2 separate regions of the Homo sapiens genome follow, and region 2 is linked to region 1. Evidence: fine-mapped expression QTL. Tissue or cell type: regulatory T cells. Region 1 holds a variant in brackets; the other region holds the start of a gene. All regions are shown on one strand. Distances are between the middles of the regions.

The links. PIP is the estimated chance that this variant, and not a neighbour inherited with it, causes the effect.
Region 2: RERE-AS1 starts here. The variant in region 1 is fine-mapped to the expression of RERE-AS1 in regulatory T cells (Schmiedel 2018, PIP 0.95).

Annotation. Positions count from the first base shown.
Region 1 is chr1:8,343,156-8,351,258 of GRCh38, reverse strand. SLC45A1 (solute carrier family 45 member 1) reads right to left here. Exons shown (of 9, transcript NM_001080397.3): 9 at 7,094-7,512. The coding sequence ends at 7,246. Among named protein-coding and RNA genes, the nearest start is that of SLC45A1, 29 kb to the right of the region's middle. RefSeq lists enhancers at 576-1,396, 7,643-8,103. The variant G/A (reference allele first, on the strand shown) is at 4,032.
Region 2 is chr1:8,421,095-8,429,197 of GRCh38, reverse strand. It overlaps RERE-AS1 (RERE antisense RNA 1), which reads right to left and starts at 4,553. Exons shown (of 4, transcript NR_125999.1): 1 at 4,497-4,553; 2 at 610-716. It overlaps RERE (arginine-glutamic acid dipeptide repeats), which reads left to right. Exons shown (of 23, transcript NM_001042681.2): 12 at 6,391-6,471. RefSeq lists an enhancer at 1,196-1,435 and silencers at 4,964-5,103, 5,414-5,753.

The sequences.
Region 1 (8,103 bases):
CATGCTACAACAAGGCCTCATCAGAGCTGGGCAGCTTCTCAGGCATGAACAGCTGTGGCCATTGTCACCACTCTGCCACGCACCCATGTGAGGAAGAGGGCCGGGAATGCTAACCAGACATCTGCTGGGTGGACGGGGCGGAGGGAAATGGTGCTGTCCTCCAGCAGCACCCCAAAGCCAGGCCCTCGCCTCTTGCTGCCCCAACGACGTCCCACGTGCCCTCTGCCCCTTTGTTCCTGGAAACGCATCCTCAGCTTGAGCATGGTGGCTCAGCAGCCCCGCTGGTTCCACTGCAGGTGGGCTAGGAAGATGGCACTTTGCAGGGCATGGTGTAAGTCCCAGGGCCTCAGCACAGTGTAGGTGTGCAGCTGGGTGTGTGGCTGCATTGTTGATAATTGTCCATGGTAAGTCTAGGGAGGGAGAGACCTCACTTAAGCCTCACCTGGGTAAGTCAAGATCACGCATCTGAAGGGCAAGGATGCACCGTGGAGAGATCAGCGGTGGCCTCCCACACACACACGAGATTGCAAGCTTCCAGGCCCTCAAAAATCAGCACTGGTGAGCTATACAATTGTGGATGTGATCAGCTGATGAGTGGTGGCGGGGGGCGGGGGGGGGGGGGGTCAGGGCCAGAGCCCTTCTGTGTGGAAGCTGAGATGTGGGGAGCCGTCATCTGAGCTAAGAGCCCTCACTAGCCCCAGCCTGACCACATGGTGAGACCCAGGGCAGTGTGACTGGGCACCAGCACAGACTTCAGTGACCACCATCAGCCTCACCTGACCAGCCCAGAAGGCTTGGGTACATATCTGAACTCAGAGCTTTGAAATCAGAACCAGCTACCCAGATACTGGGGATGAAGCTGCCAGGCCCCAAAACCAGTGGAAAAGTCTGTCCTGCACTGGACCCCTGGGGCCCTTCCTGCTGCCCAATGGAGACCGAGGAACAGCGGGGTCCTTGGCCTCCCTACCTCCTCCTAAGGAGGATCTGCCAGATGAGCCAGCCAAGGGATGCAGCCGCACATTTGGCCATCCGGTTGGACTGATACGGGCTGCAGGATAAAGCAAGCCCTTTCTGGTTCATAAGGTTCCCGGACCTCCCGTTAGAAGGCGGGGCCTGGCTGGAGCTGGCATCCATCGTGGATCCCCAGGGGGCCAGGAACAGCCTCCTGCTCAGCCCCTGATGAGCTCCAGCTGCAGATGCCTCACCCGGTCCTCTCGGAGGCGGCATTGTCGGCCTTTGACAGTCTCGGTATCTGAGGTCCTTTACCTGAATCCCCACTGGGTTCCTAGCTGCCCTGGAATCCTTGGCAACTCAAGTTCTGGGACCTGGTTCTCTGCTTCTCCAACTCAAGGTGGCTTCTCTAGTGGCTGTCTTTGTCAAGAGTGGTCATTGTTCCCTTTTGACACCTCAGGGACCCAGGCTGCAGAAGTCCCCCTGTATCTCCCACAGCCCAGTTCTGTGTATGCACAGGCACCCGGGCCCCTTCTTAATGAACCAAGTTTGTGGAAGGCACTTGCTCTGCAGATATTGGAGGGATGGATGGATGGGTGGATGGACCCTGCTGGATGGATGGATGGATGGATGGATGGATGGACGGACGGACGGATGGACGGACGGACGGGCCCTGCAGGGCAAGGTTCCTTGCTGCCAGTCCAGATGTGCTATTGGAAAGTGGGTGTGAAGGACCAGATAGAAGGACCTTTTGGGTTGACTTCGGAAGGCTTCCCAGGGACGCCTCTGCTGGGCACCTGGAGACCCTCCCTTCACATTCTCTTGACTGTGCCTGCCGTGTGGGCCCTGCAGTCCCTCTGACTCCAACCCTGGTTGACACCATCGTAGAAGTGGGGAATGGGGCTTGGGGGATCAGCTTCTGATGAACCCCTAGGGTTTGAGTATCCATTGGAGCAAATTAAAAACAGGCTTTTAGAGCACCTTTTAGTTGTCCCAGAGAGGATTCCTGAGGCCATTTCTTGCCTATCCCACTGTTTTCTGGGCATGTGACCACCCAGTCCCCCCCACCCCCCAATCCCCTTGGACCCTGCTGCTGGGCAGCCGTCGAACAGAGTCCATCCCCATCCTGGCCACCAGGTGGCAGTCGTTACAAGGCCCAGGTGCTTGCCCTGGGCCCGCGGCTGCCACAAGACCTGCAGCTCTGGTGTAGGGGCAAGTCAAGGCCCCCGGCGATGGTGGGGAAGGCTGGAGGGTTTGACAGCGAGCATTGTGTAAGAGATCCGACGTTTCCTCGAGGCAGGCGGCCGGACAGGCGGGTCAGAGATCAGGCAACTGGACAGGCCTCAGCAGAGCGGGTTGTGGAGATGGCTGGGAAGAGGGGGCTGAGTGTGGGCAGGTGAGGCTGATGGCTGTGGGCAGGCAGGGCGGGCACGGCTGTGAGAATGAGGGCAAAGGCCTTGTCTAGAGAACAGGAGGTTTCTTCTGTTCTCCGCTGCATCCCCCAAGGCTTGGGAGGTACCCGGTAGGAACTCAATGTTCCTTGTGTGGAAGAGAATCCCAGGATGGCATCAGCAGCGGATGACTTCCAAGAATCATGACTCCCATAACTAACCGCGCCCCCACTCCCCGACAAGCCCCCTGAGCAGCTGCTGGGGGTCCTTGTGTGCCACAAAAGTACCCACCCCCAGTTCCAGACACCTGCTCCTTCCCTCTACGGATGCCCTCCACCCGCTCCCCGCTGAGGATGATACGTCACGCCCCACGCACCCGAGTGGATTCTGCAGACACACTCTGAGCAGGTGCAGGGAGGGCCAGGACCTCCCGACTGCGGGGGGGCCAGGCAATTGTCAGTTCTTGCATATTCCAGGGAAATCATCCCTGTTCCCCCAGAAACCTGTAGCCCAGCCTGGTGAGTGTAGGAATGCCACCTTACCGGGTCCCGGTTCCCGGTTCTCCAGGGAATGCCACCTTACCCTGTCCCGGTTCCCCAGGGAATGGTCCAGGGTTAGCCCAACAGCCTAGGGAGGAAGAAACACAAAACCCAGGGAGGCGATGACCTCTAGGGCAATTCCTTTGATGACGTTCAGTTTCCATGCTAAGTGCTGTGGGCAGTGCTCGATGGCTGTTAGGTGTGTTTCGTTTCTGAGTGGCATCAAGGAATGGGAGCCACTTTCCAAGTTTGCTGACAGGAAAGTCAGGAGTGGCTTCAGATCTTGGTGATGTGGTTTTTGTTTTGAGTGGCCTGAGAAGCATGAGTCTCACAGAGCGCTGATCGATAAAGCAAGAGGCCTTCTCCCGCTGTCCCCTCGCCTCTGAATAGGATGAGAAGCTCCCTCCAAGCTGAGCTCCCTGGGGAGCGAGCCCTGGGGAGCGAGAAGGCCTCCCTGCAGCAGCACAGTGTTCAGGAGACAGACGGGCAGGAAGCTGCCCGCCCTCAGGGGCTTGGCCGGCTCACAGCGCTCCTAAGGCACTCAGCGGCATGAGGCTGGACTCAGACTCCCCGGGCTCAAACTCCACCCTGTTGTGACGTGGGCCAGGTACTGGGTGTGCTTGCCTCAGGATCCAGATCTGTCAAATGGGGGAATGATACCTCTTTCCCAGCAAGGTCGGAGAATGGATTAAGATTCATTCACACGTGGCCTCGTGTGTAGTGAGGACTTCACAAACAGCAAGCAGCGGTGACTACCCTCATCATCACAGCTTGATTCTTTTTTTTTTTTTTTTTTTGAGACAGAGTCTCGCTCTGTCACCCAGGCTGGAGTGCAGTGGTGCAATCTCAGCCCACTGCAACCTCTGCCGCCCAGGTTCAAGCGATTCTCCTGCCTCAGCCTCCCAAGTAGCTGGGACTACAGGCGCCCACCACCATGCCCAGCTAATTTTTTGTATTTTTAGTAGAGACAGGGTTTCACCGTGTTAGCCAGGATGGTCTCAATCTCCTGGCCTCGTGATCCACCCGCCTCGGCCTCCCAAAGTGCTGGGATTACAGGCGTGAGCCACTGCGCCCGGCCCACAGCTTGATTTTTAAGTAGAGAGAAATCCTCTCTGAGATGTGAAAGTCAAACGAATGTGGCTCTCAGTGA[G/A]TCCTAGGCCTCGTGGTTTGGAGCTGGTGGCTGCTCCCACTGCCATCTGCTAGGAATAGACCTGGAAGTCAAGGGCAGCTTTTCGGACCCGGCCAGAGGGCAGTACTCCCACAGTTCGGGAGGCAGGGCAGGTTCTCAGAAAAGAGAGGCTGACAGGGACGATTCCCACGTGTAGAAGCAATCTGTGTTTTGTTAGAAAGTTCTAGGAAGAGGGCCTAAGATTTGACAAGCCAAGAGTAAGCGGGAAGCCCCTTATTCTTCATTTTGACCAGTTCTGGGCAAAGACAGCCCAGACCAGAGGACAGCCACCCAACACCACATTTTCTAGGAAGTCTGAAGCTCTTCCAAACAACATAAATGTGGGGAGGGTAAGTCTGCAGTTCCAGGAAAAGCATGGGACTAACAGGGCCTGAGTCTACAGAGGCTCAAAGGAGCGGTGTGACTTTGAAAAGCCACTAAACCTCTCTGTGCTTCAGCTACATGTGTATCAGGGACCGTGAGACCCGCTTCACTGAGCTCATGACCATGAAGGGTAAAGCAGCATCACATGAAAGCACAGGGAAAGAATCACTGGCTCCAAGCAGGGTGGACTGCACGGAGGAAGTGGCATTTCAGACAGGTCTACATGGATGAATCAGATATTGATGGGCAGAGAAGAGGTGGACTTGGCCTGCAGGAAGATCCTAAACACAGGAACCGATTGTGGCCCACAAAGGTTCTGTGGCTGTAGTACAGGGGGCTGGCAACGTGGCGGGTGGCTGGCTCGGGAAGATGGGCTGGGCTCTGTTTGGTGGAAGGAATTTCTACCTGATTCCTTAGGGTCTGGGGAGCCAGGGTAGGTGTCATGGAAGACTAGAAGAGGGGATGGGCTCAGGCCCGTGTTTACAGCCCCCCAGCTTCAGGGTGGAAGATGGATGTGAGGGTAGACAGGAGGCCAGGAGTCCAGCAGGGGCGCAGAGAGGAGTGGTGGGGCTCCAGGAGGCAGCAGGCAGTGACACTGAGGAAGGCTATGGCCCATGGGGGAGGCCGGGGCTCAGGTGGGAAAATCATAACCAAGGTGGGGAGGCCGTGGTTGGGAGGGAGGCTGTGGCCCAGGTGGGGAGGTAGCCTTTCTGACTGGCCCTAAGTGGTCACAGCAAGATGATAAGACACTGTCATGAACGCCAGACTCCCCAAGGCTGGCAACAGGCCCCAGAACCCCTGTTGTTTGTTGTGGATTTGTGGTCAGGGATGTCTTATATGTCCCCAGAACACAGGGCCCATGCAGTGAGGGAACTGGGGGCTGCACAATCCCAGACCAGGCCCAGCTTGGCGACAACAGGGACCCGGCCGTGACCCCTCATGGCCATTAATCACCATGCGTGGAGGAGCCCTCCCAGGCCTCTGAGAAGGGGCCTTGGTGAGCTTCCAGCGTCAGGTGACGAAGATGGTCAGAGGCCAGATGGCGAGGGACTGCCACACTCACGAGAGCTTTGCCAGATCCACAAAGGGGCACTGGGAGGCAGTGGGCACAGCCCGGGCAGACCCAGGCCCAGCGACGCCTGCACGCAGCAGGCACATGGTGTCCATCTGTGGAATGAACCCTTGGCGGATGGAGGGGGAAGAATGACCCGAACCTCGCCCTCCAGCCCCTAGTCCCTGCCTGTGGAGTCAAAAGGCAGGATGGGCGCTGGCCAGCCACATCAGCTCCAAACTCTTTGAGATTTCAACTTTTGGGGCATTTTACAATCTGAGCATCTTGGTGCCTATGCTCCCTCGAGCCTGTCAAGCAAGTGCTCACTTCAGAGATCACTCCCTGGCTTCATCAGGACACTGCTCAAACGGCACCTCACTACTGAGGCCACCCAGACACGCTGCTGTCGCCCTGTCCTCCTTCCCTGCGCTTGCGCTGCACGGAACCTCAGTGAGCCATGTGTCTCCCTTCCTCTCACATCAGTTCCAGCAGGGCAGAGTGGACACTTACAGCTGGATTCCCAGGCCAACCACTGTCTGCCACACCCAGGCACTCGCTGGATATCTGGAGGGTGGATGAGTGGATAAGAGGATGGGTGGAAGGATGGATGGATGGAGAAATGGATATTTGGATGGGTAGATGGGTGGACATGTGGATGGATGGATATATGGATGAGTGGATATTCGGATAGGTGGATATTTGGATGAGTAGATGGATGGTTATGTGGATGGGTAGATGGGTGGATGTGTGGATGGATGGTTTTGTGGATGAGTGGATATTCAGATGGGTAAATATTTGGATGAGTGGATGGATGGTTATGTGGATGGACGGATGGGTGGATATGTGGATGGATGGATATATGGAGAAGTGGATATTTGGATGTGGATGGATGGATGGATGGATGGATGGATGGATGGATGGATGGATATATGGAGAAGTGGATATTTAGATGGGTGGATGGGTGGATATGTGGATGGATGGATATATAGATGAGTAGATATTCAGATGGGTGGATATTTGGATGAGTGGACGGATGGTTATGTGGACGGATGAATGGGTGGGTATGTAGATGGATGGATATATAGATGAGTGGATATTTGGATGGGAGGATATTTGGATGAGTGGATGGATGGTTATGTGGATGGGTGGATATGCGGATGGGTAGATGAATGAATGGATGAGAGAATAAATGGATGAATGGACAAGTGAATGAATATGAGGCCTTCTGATCCAAAAGACCTGTATACTGTGACTCTACCCTGGGATGCAATGTACAGAATGTATGGTCCAGTTAGACCAGGCTCACTCTACCTCAGCACAATTGACAGCTGGGTCTTGCTAGCTCCTTGCTGTTGGGGCGGTCCTGTGTGCCGTGGGAGGTTTACAGCATCCCCGAGTTGTGACAACCAAAGCTATCTCCAGACTTTGCCAGATGTCTTCCTGGGGGTGGGGGTGGGGTGGCAAAATTGCCCCTGGTTGAGAACCATTGAATTACACCTTTACTTTCAAAAAAAGATTCTTACAAACCTCCCCTGCCCGAGTCCTCAGGAGGGTAACTCAATCCCATGGGGACCTCTCAGCCACCAGAGAGCAATGCCTAGAAACCATAGGCTTTGCCGCTGTCATTTATTATTTTATCACATATTTACATTCCAGTAGGCAGCCAGTCCCCCTGTCCAACAAGGCCCTTTGGTCCTCACTGGTCGGCCTGCTCCAGACCCCCAGGTGCAGGCGCGTGTCCGGAGTCGAGGCTCCGCGATGTCAGACGTTCAGCAGGAGGGGCCGGTGCTCCTCGTCTGCAGCGTCGCTGGGAGGAATTTCATAAATGACAAACAGGGAGGAGTACAGGCAGCCCAGGAAGGACACGAGGCTGGAGAAGTACATCACCCCGTTGGCACTGCCCACGGCCGAGGTCAGGGGCCCCAGGACCAGGGAGACCAGAATCTGAGCCAGGAAGTACTGGCAGCTCAGCAGAGAGATGTCCACGCCCATGCCCCGCCGGGTGCCGTCCGCACTGGACCCTGCAAACTGACCCAGAGGAAGAAACGTGTCAGCGAGACACGCCGCGGCCAGCACGGGGTGACCGAGCTCGGTGTGTCCTGCGAGCCCAGGAGGCCCGAGCGGCCCACACACAGCGGCCTCACATTTTTCAGCGCCAACATGCACAGGGAGTTCAGCCAAGAGTTTAACAATATTTGTGTTCGGAGAGATGACGACAATGAAAAGAATCCATGACTAATGGGGCAGAGGGCTGAGCTCCCACGGGCCGAGGTGGCGGGAGACACTTTCCCCGCTCAGCACTTGAGCTCTTCCCCATCCTCTCACCCAAAGAAAACCAATCTGCCCAGCCAGGCGACCGCTCCACTCCTGCCATCCCCTCCTTCACCTTCATCCAGGATGGGACCTGCCCTACACCCCCAAAGTCCTCTGCACATGACAGCCGCTGGTCCTCTGTCCGAGGCTCCAAGGTCCTCGTGGCCTCCAGCTTGGGCACGTCACTCACTCTCCCTCCCCTGCATGCCATGCTGGGGGACAGTGGCTGAGAGTGTGGTCTGTGCAGAGTGACGGTGGGGAGCGGTGGCATGGCTTTCCCTCACTGGGCTCCCCCAGCACCAGCCG
Region 2 (8,103 bases), 78 kb before region 1:
TGGGAATAGCAGTAGCCTCTGCCTCATAAGGTTGTTGTGATGATTAAATGAGCTAGTGCATTAGAGCCTTTAAGACAGTGGCTGGCACGTTATAGCGCTCAGTGTTCACCATTTTTATTGTTCTAGGGTGGTGTTTCCCTGCCTTTCTCATACCATGACGCATGTAAAAATCAATGCCGTTTGTACTCATCAGTAGGTTAATGGTGATGCTACTTGCACCAGGTCCACGTGCCATCCCAAAGGTGGAGAGGTGAGGACCAGTATCTAGGCAGACCAGTGAGGCTGAGGCACAAGGCTTGGGGGACTATGACAGGGGGTGGGCTCAAGCAATAGCATGAGGAACTTTTGAACACATTAATTTAATGCATTTTGACGTGGTTATTTTTATTTTTATGTTATTGTTATTTTTATTCCAATATAGCTGTTTCTAAAGTGGCTAGGTCTAAACAGCCATGTCAGAATTTCCTTTTTGGAACATAGGAGCAGACTAGATCACATGGCTTCCAAGTCTGAACCTTGCGTTCTTTCCACTGTAGCGAAAATGCAAAACAGAGCTTTCCAGGTTCTATTAAAACCCAAGGCTAGTAATGCTGGGTTCAGGTAACTTACTTTTTTAAAGCCAGAAGTTAAATTTTCTCTACTAGGGACTTGTAGGTAGGTAACTTTTGATGGTGATACGAAATTCAGCTCAATAGTGGAAAACTATAGCAGTTTATCTAAAAATTAGAGCACAAAATCATAAACGTAAGTTGTAACACAAAGCAACAATCTCCTTGCCATAAATATTTATTTATATTTGGATCTCACCTGGCTATGGGGGTACACAAACAGAAAAGGACTTGTTTTATGTTTCCAAGGAGCAGCACCTAGTTGGGTTGGTTGGGCATGAACACACCAGAGAAACAAGTGCCAACATCTCAAGACGCTCAGTTCGTGCGTCTGAGAGTGGGCAGGCTATGAGCTGGGGAGCATAAACAGCAGAGCTGCCCAGCGCTGGCAGCAGTGGCCAAGTCAGTGACTTGCCTTCTATATTTCCTTCCTCCTTTACCCTTGGCATCCTGCTATTCTAATATCTATACACTGGGAGTGATAGAAAAACTAATGGACACAGAAATAATTCATGAGACCTTGAATTTCAGCACTGGAAATGCCGAATTTCAGCTCAACAACTAGAAGACTCTTAAGAAACAGACTGTCTCCATGAACTTGCATTTAGAGGCTTATAGGGCCTGTTGATTTATAAGTCAATAGTGTTAATTGTTAAAGTCTTAAAAACTTCGGGGTCTTCATTTGAAGAGCGATGAATTTATAGAGGGAAAGGAGACAGCCGCAACAGAAGTCTCTTTCACGTGTGACCCCTTCCAATCATTGACTACTGTGAGTGGTCGTCTTTGTTTCGATTTTCAGGGCTACTCTACATTTCTGGTAAACCACAAGCTAAAGGCTGGTCTCTGAGAAGCAGATGTTTTGCTGGTTTTGAGGCCTTGTGGCTTTCCATAGAGAAGTAACAGTACAGGCCACATGAAGCTTTTACTTCCTTTTTTTTTTTTTTTTTTTTTTAAAGTGGGGCCAAGGGTGCTTTTGCTCTTGATAGCATTATATTGACATACATTGACAGCTGTGGTAGGTCTGTGTTCACCACCAGATGTCAAATTCCTATTTCTGGAAGTAATTAGTTTGAGATACCTGTGAAACGTTCAAGTTGAGTGTTCCCAGTGGACTTGGACCATAGATTTAGTCTTAGAAATACCAGTGACAATCTCGAAAGATATTTAGAGCCAAGGGAACAGTGGAGATCATATGGGGAGAGGATATATATAGCAGAAAGCCCTAGGACAAAGCTTTGGGGAGACTCCAGCATTTAGAGGTTGAGTAGAGAATTAGGCCAAGTGGTATGAGCAAAACTAGGAGAGTTTGGCATCATGGAGCAAGAGGTCAGCTCTGTTAGGAGAGTTCAAAATGGACCTTCTGGCTTTCAACAGTCCATTTCCACTGTGACCACCCTAGCCCAGGCCCTCAGCATCTCATGGTTGGTTTCACTTGTCCGGGTGCGGTGACTCACACCTGTAATCTCAACACTTTGGGAGGTCAAAGCGGGAGGATTGCTTGAGGCCAGGAGTTTGAGACCAGCCTGGGCAATATAGTGAGACCTCATCGTTAATAAATAAATAATTTTTAAAGGAGACAAAAAATGTGGTGAGCATCAACTGCCTAGTGTTATATGGAGGCACTAGGTGTAAGATGTAATTATTTTAAGAGTTTATGGACTTTTTGGGTAAGCAGGCCTTATACAAATAAATAAACTAATGAGAGAGTAACTGGACATCTGGTTTCATTTGGGAGTAGGAGAGATTTTGAGGTGAACGTGGAGATGCCTTACCCAGATTCTGGAGTTGAGACAGAGGTCCCCCAGTGTGGGCCAGTTGGCATTACTGGACATCTGGCTGGAAAGGTGGGCAGGGCCAGGATCCTGGAGGGCCTTGAATTCAGGGCTAAGGAGTGTAAACACTGTCCTGCAGAGACCACCATGCTGTTCTTAGGTAGGGGCTAAGGGCCAGATAAAGTGGGACTCAGGATGAAATCTATAGTTGGGAAAAATTCCTTGGCAGAGGCTTTTAAATGGCTGGATGGGGGAGATGGTTAATAGCCTAGTTATTAGGAAAGAGAGATAAAGGTCTGGCCTGGGACTGCCACTAGCATGAGCAGGAAAGGAGGGCGTTGAAAGACACTTTTTTTTTTTTTTTTTTTGAGACAGAGTCTCTGTCGCCCAGGCTGGAGTGCAGTGGCGCAATTTCGGCTCACTGCAAGCTGCGCCTCCCGGGTTGACGCCATTCTCCTGCCTCAGCCTCCCCAGTAGCTGGGACTACAGGCGCCCACCACCATGCCCAGCTAATTTTTTGTATTTTTAGTAGAGACGGGGTTTCACTGTGTTAGCCAGGATGGTCTCGATCTCCTGGCCTTGTGGTCTGCCCGCCTCAGCCTCCCAAAGTGCTAGGATTACAGGCATGAGCCACCGCGCCCGGCTGAAAGACACTTCTTAGGAAGAATACTGAGGACTTTATGATTTGACATTGGACCCGAGAAGAGGAAAGTACAGACTCATAGAAAATGGTAACAGAAAATAGTTACCACTGTAGACGCCTGCCTGCATTTTACAGAGTGTGGCTCTGAGGATTTGAGGGGGCTTAAGTTTGAATTCTGGCTTTGTCTCTGAGGAGTTGATCTAGTTACCTATCTGTGCCTCAGCTTCCTTGTCTGTAAAATGGGGATAATAATTGTACTTCTTCTTAGGTTGTAAAGATTTCGAATTAATATATATGAGGCTCCTGGCATATAGTAGGTACTTAGTAACTATTGGTTGAATGGATGATGTTCAAAGGATTGCATCACAATAAATGGAAGAAACAGGATCTGAATTTGTTTGTCCAACTCTGCCACCTTACCCTGATGTTCCAGAGTCAGCCTTTCTCACATGCTGCCTTTATTGTGTAGGCCTCTTTTACTGGACCTGTTAGATGTCACTTGGTATCAAGCCCACGTTCCGATTGCATGGTCCTGGCGTTCCACAGCCTGGCTCACTCCAGATTGCCCGCCCCAAGTCTGTGTAGACTGTCCCCTGTAACCCACCTCCCATTCTCCACCTCTGACCTTCACGGAGGGCCCGGTCACCAAGCCACCTCCCACCCCTGCAATAGTTGCCCACCCCTTGTGATCTCGCTGATGTCACTGCCTTGGCGAAGGCATTCTGAACTACTACAGACCACTGCAGTCTAGCCTTCTTGGGTCCCTTGCTGCACTGATGAGCTGCACCTCACTTCTTTATGCTTGGCCAGATGACATCTCAGAATGTTCTGTAATGACTTCACACATACTTATCTTACGTGCAAAAATGAATCACAGTTCAGTAAAGGTCCATGGCAACCTTTATTATCTTCCTAGACCCCTCTCAGCTAGGTGCTCAGTAAATACCTGAATACTTGAAGAATGGATTAAGCGGCAGGAATTCTGATTACTGAGGTGGAGTGTGCCAGTAGTTGAGGTCCTCATCTCATACCTGAACTGTGTCAGCAGCCTCTTTAACTGGTCTGTCCCTAATCTACACTTAGGCCACACTGCCACTGGCACAGTCCTCATCCAGTCTTTTCATGGAAAGCTCCAGCTTCAGCCTTTCTGCCAGCCTACAATTAGGAACTCTTCCGTGCGGCCTGAAGGGCTCTCTGCAACCGGATCCTTGCCTGCCTCTTTCGTCTTATCTGCTGGCACTCCATTCTGCACACCCTGTCCTCCTTGCAGTTCCCAGAATGTTCCCTGTGCCTTTTCCTGGCTGACTTCTGCTGGAAGCCCTGCTGGAGCCCACCTGGCAGGCTCACACTCTTCCTTGTCACTTCCTCTAAGACATCAGCAAGCAGAGTAAGTTGCTTCCTCTTCCTAGCTTCACCCACCACCCTTTGTTCCTCTGCTGCTTTTCTTGCAGGCCCTAGGACTGGTTTGTTTACCTGTCTGCCTTCCTGGGCAGACTGCAGCTCCTTGAGGGCAGGGCCATCTTTCCGTGCCGTCTCTCCCGGTGATATGCTGTGTGCACACAGCGTAGGATGCCTGTTGATCATATAAACGATACTTTTGTCAAGTAACAAAGGTCACTCCTCACACTAGAGGAGAGCTTGCTGCTTTCTTGTGCCTTGAGAGATTTTCCCTTCGAACTGTATGAATTATATTGAAAATTGACAATGATGAGTCATATCTCAGCAAGGGTGAAATTCAAAAACGCAAAGCCTCCACTACTGGAGTAGGAGGTTGCAGACTGGTCTTAAAAGGCTAAGTCTGGCCCTTCACTGAATCCGCCTGGCGGGTCTCAAACACAGGGAGTGGGAGGGACCCTCTGCCCGGTGGGCAGGTGATTTATTGGCTGGGAAGCTTCCGCGGTGATTTAGTTGTGAAGCGGCGGCCGGGGAAGTGCAGGCTAATGCCTGGGCCGCCAGGGAGAGGCCGCCCACAATCGCGGGCCGGAAGGGACCGCGGGGGGCGTCGGGGCCAGCCCCCCGTTTCGCAGCTGAGGCGGGGTTGGGGCGGAGGGCGTGCGGCCGGGGCGCAGCCGACTTCGTCCATCCGGAACGTGGGCTGGAGACCCAGCAGCCTGGGAAGGGCCCCAGCCCTGTGGGCGCCCTCTCCCCACGCTTGCTGCGGTAGGGAGGAAGTTTCTGTGCTTTACCGCCTTGATGTTCTCCTGTCCGGAAGGAGGACACAGATTCCAGCGCCGGGTGCCCTGGAGGCTCCGGCCTCGGGGTGGGGGTCGGGCCGGGGGCGGGGCCGGGGCCGGGGCGCGGGGCCCCGGCTGGCGGACAGGAGGGCGGCGGCAATCCAGGCCGCCTTTTGCAGCCGCCCGCGGCCGCGCCGGGCTCTGCGCGCCGCGCTCCTGCCTCCTCCCCCGTCAGCGGCGGCCCCAGCCCCGCGCCCCCCGGGCCCCGCGCCGCGCGGCCCCGCCGCGGTCACACGCCGAGCCACCCGCGGCCGCCTCCGCCCTGCGCTTTGTGGAGCCGGAGCCCAGTGACAGGCGACGGCCTCTTGCCGCCCCGGACCCCGGGCGCTTACCTGTGGCTGCTGGGGTCGGCCGCCCGGGACCAGGCTGGGAGCCCCGAGGTGGGGGCTCGGAGCCAGGAGCTGCCCCCACCGGGGCGGGGAGGGGTGCTCGGGAGGCATGGGACAAAGTGAAAGTCTCCGGGCTGGGGTTAGGGACGAGTCTGCTGCGAAAATGGATGGGGGCGGCGAGTGGCGTCGGGAGGGCGGAAGGGGTGCTGGTTATTCTCTGGTGTCTCGGAGTGGCTTTTAATGACGGACGGTGGGGCAGGCCCGCTGGCTTTCGTGTTCCCGGTGGGCTTCTGTGATACTGGTGCCTTCCGGTGCCTCCTGGCAAATTCTTTGGATTAAGGAAAGCGGCCTTTTAACCCCCTAGGGTTCCCTTCTGGAGAAGAGTCACCGGGTTTGGTTCTGTTTCCCCTTTCTGCTCGACACTTCTGGGAAGCTTGGTTCTCAGGTGGGAAAGCAGTTGTGTTTTATTAAAACATGGAGCATATTTATACCTTCGTGCACCAGAATGTGTGCCTGGTGGAAGAGGGGGACAGATTGCTTCTTAGCCTCAGACGCAGGACGTCCTTCTCTTAAACGCGCTGCCCTGCGTGGTGGGTGGGATTGGGGTTCTGATGAAGGTAGCTGGGGCCTGCCCTGGCCAGTGGGTCCCAGCTGAGCTGCTGACATACTCTCCGAGCCTCGGCAGTATTCCCTAGCCGAGACTTTTTTTGTGGTTGTTATTCTGCTGATTGTAGATATCTTTGCTTTGCTGACATCCTGTTTTGTTTTTGGTTTTTACATCCCATTTGTTTCTTTTTATCACAGAAACGCTTCGTTAAGGGACTCAGGCAGTACGGGAAGAACTTCTTCAGAATTAGAAAGGAGCTGCTTCCCAATAAGGAAACAGTGAGTACAATTGGACTTTATGTAACTTGATTTTTTCCTCTTTGCTCCTGCTGCCTCTCCACATTTGATCTTATGAAATGGTTTCCTTTAACCCTGCGCTGTGCTCAGACTCGGGCTGGCCTCCAGAATTCTCTCCGTTTTACTCCCTTGACTTTTAATTTGAGTTCATAATTTTTAGATAGTAAAGTGACAGATTATGCTTATCCGCCTGGAGAACATAGACTTCTGTTGTAACTCTGAGAACAGAAAGGTCTTTGGGAACAGAGGGTTAGTTGTGGGGGAAGGATTGTTGGAGAGTTAACATCAAATTTTAAACATAGTGGCTGGAATAGGAAATAGCATTTTATCACTAGTTTGAATTTGGTAATTGGCAGAAATCATCAACCAAACCAGAGGTTTGTGGCTTATTATACTTTGAGTTCTGGGGGATTTTTTCCATTTTTCAATGTTGCTCTGTTTTGAAGAGGAGTTTTAACTCTTTAATATTCTATCCCTGAGAGTTTGCACTTTCCACTGGACAGATGTACAAGGGGATCTTATAAATTGCTTAAATGGAGCTTTACAAAAAACTACTTAGTATTTCACAAAGCTGGGGGTCAGAGCTGACAAATGTGCCCGATAAACGTGAGGTAGAAGGATTTGCTGAGGAAAATACAGAGTGAAATTATATGAAGAGAATGCGGGGAAGGGATTCATTCTCATTTCCCTGTGGTTGCCTCCCTCCTCATCTCCTTCCCTGGTGGTGTAGAGGCAGATGGGGAGAGAGTCTTCCCTCTGGCTAGGCCACGGGATAGGGCAGATGGGATGGAGTTGGAGCAGCCACTCCACTGTCTGAAGGCGAAGGGAGGACTCATTAACCAGAAACACTCTTCAGGACTTTGGGAGGAGTGATCCATGTTTAATCTGCCTAGACATTGAGCTGCTTTTTTAGGGAGTGGAGGTGGGAGATGGATGCAAGAATATCTACTATAAAAGTATGCGGATAATTTGGGTTTTTTGGCTTAATTTTTTAATTGGATGTTGTTTACTGATTTCCTCTTGTTTAATTCTGTCTTTTTAAAAATGAGCTGTTTTTCTGGACACTTACTGTATAGTACCTCAAGGACAGTGATAACTCATGGGGAAGAAGGGTTTTGTGATTTCAAGTATAGTCTTGTATATATAAATGGATGATTTGCATCAGTCAATGACAATTAAATTTAAGTATTACGCATCTCATATGCTAGGATGGATCATATTGAGAATGGTAAAAAACAGAGAGAGAGAAACCTGTTTATGAACATTAAACTAAGATGTATTATGATGCCAATCTATATAATCAACTTATTTCTTACCCTTCCCAGAACAGGGTAGAGTTATTTAATATGGAATATTGAGATACATATTTTAAGTTTTCTGGGGATTTCAGTGACTTGAAGTTTGATATGATTAAAAATTAAAATGCCTTTGCCCGAGTGTAGGAAGTTTGGTTTGGCTGAGTAAAAAAGAGATCAGTGAGTAGATTTCTCCTGATCGCTCAGATTGTAGCCTCTCAAGTTCTCTGTCTCTGCTCTGCTAAAAGTTGCAAACCATGAAGAATTTGATACAGAACTATCTTGACAATTATTTTATCTTTCAGTTTTAAAAAATAAA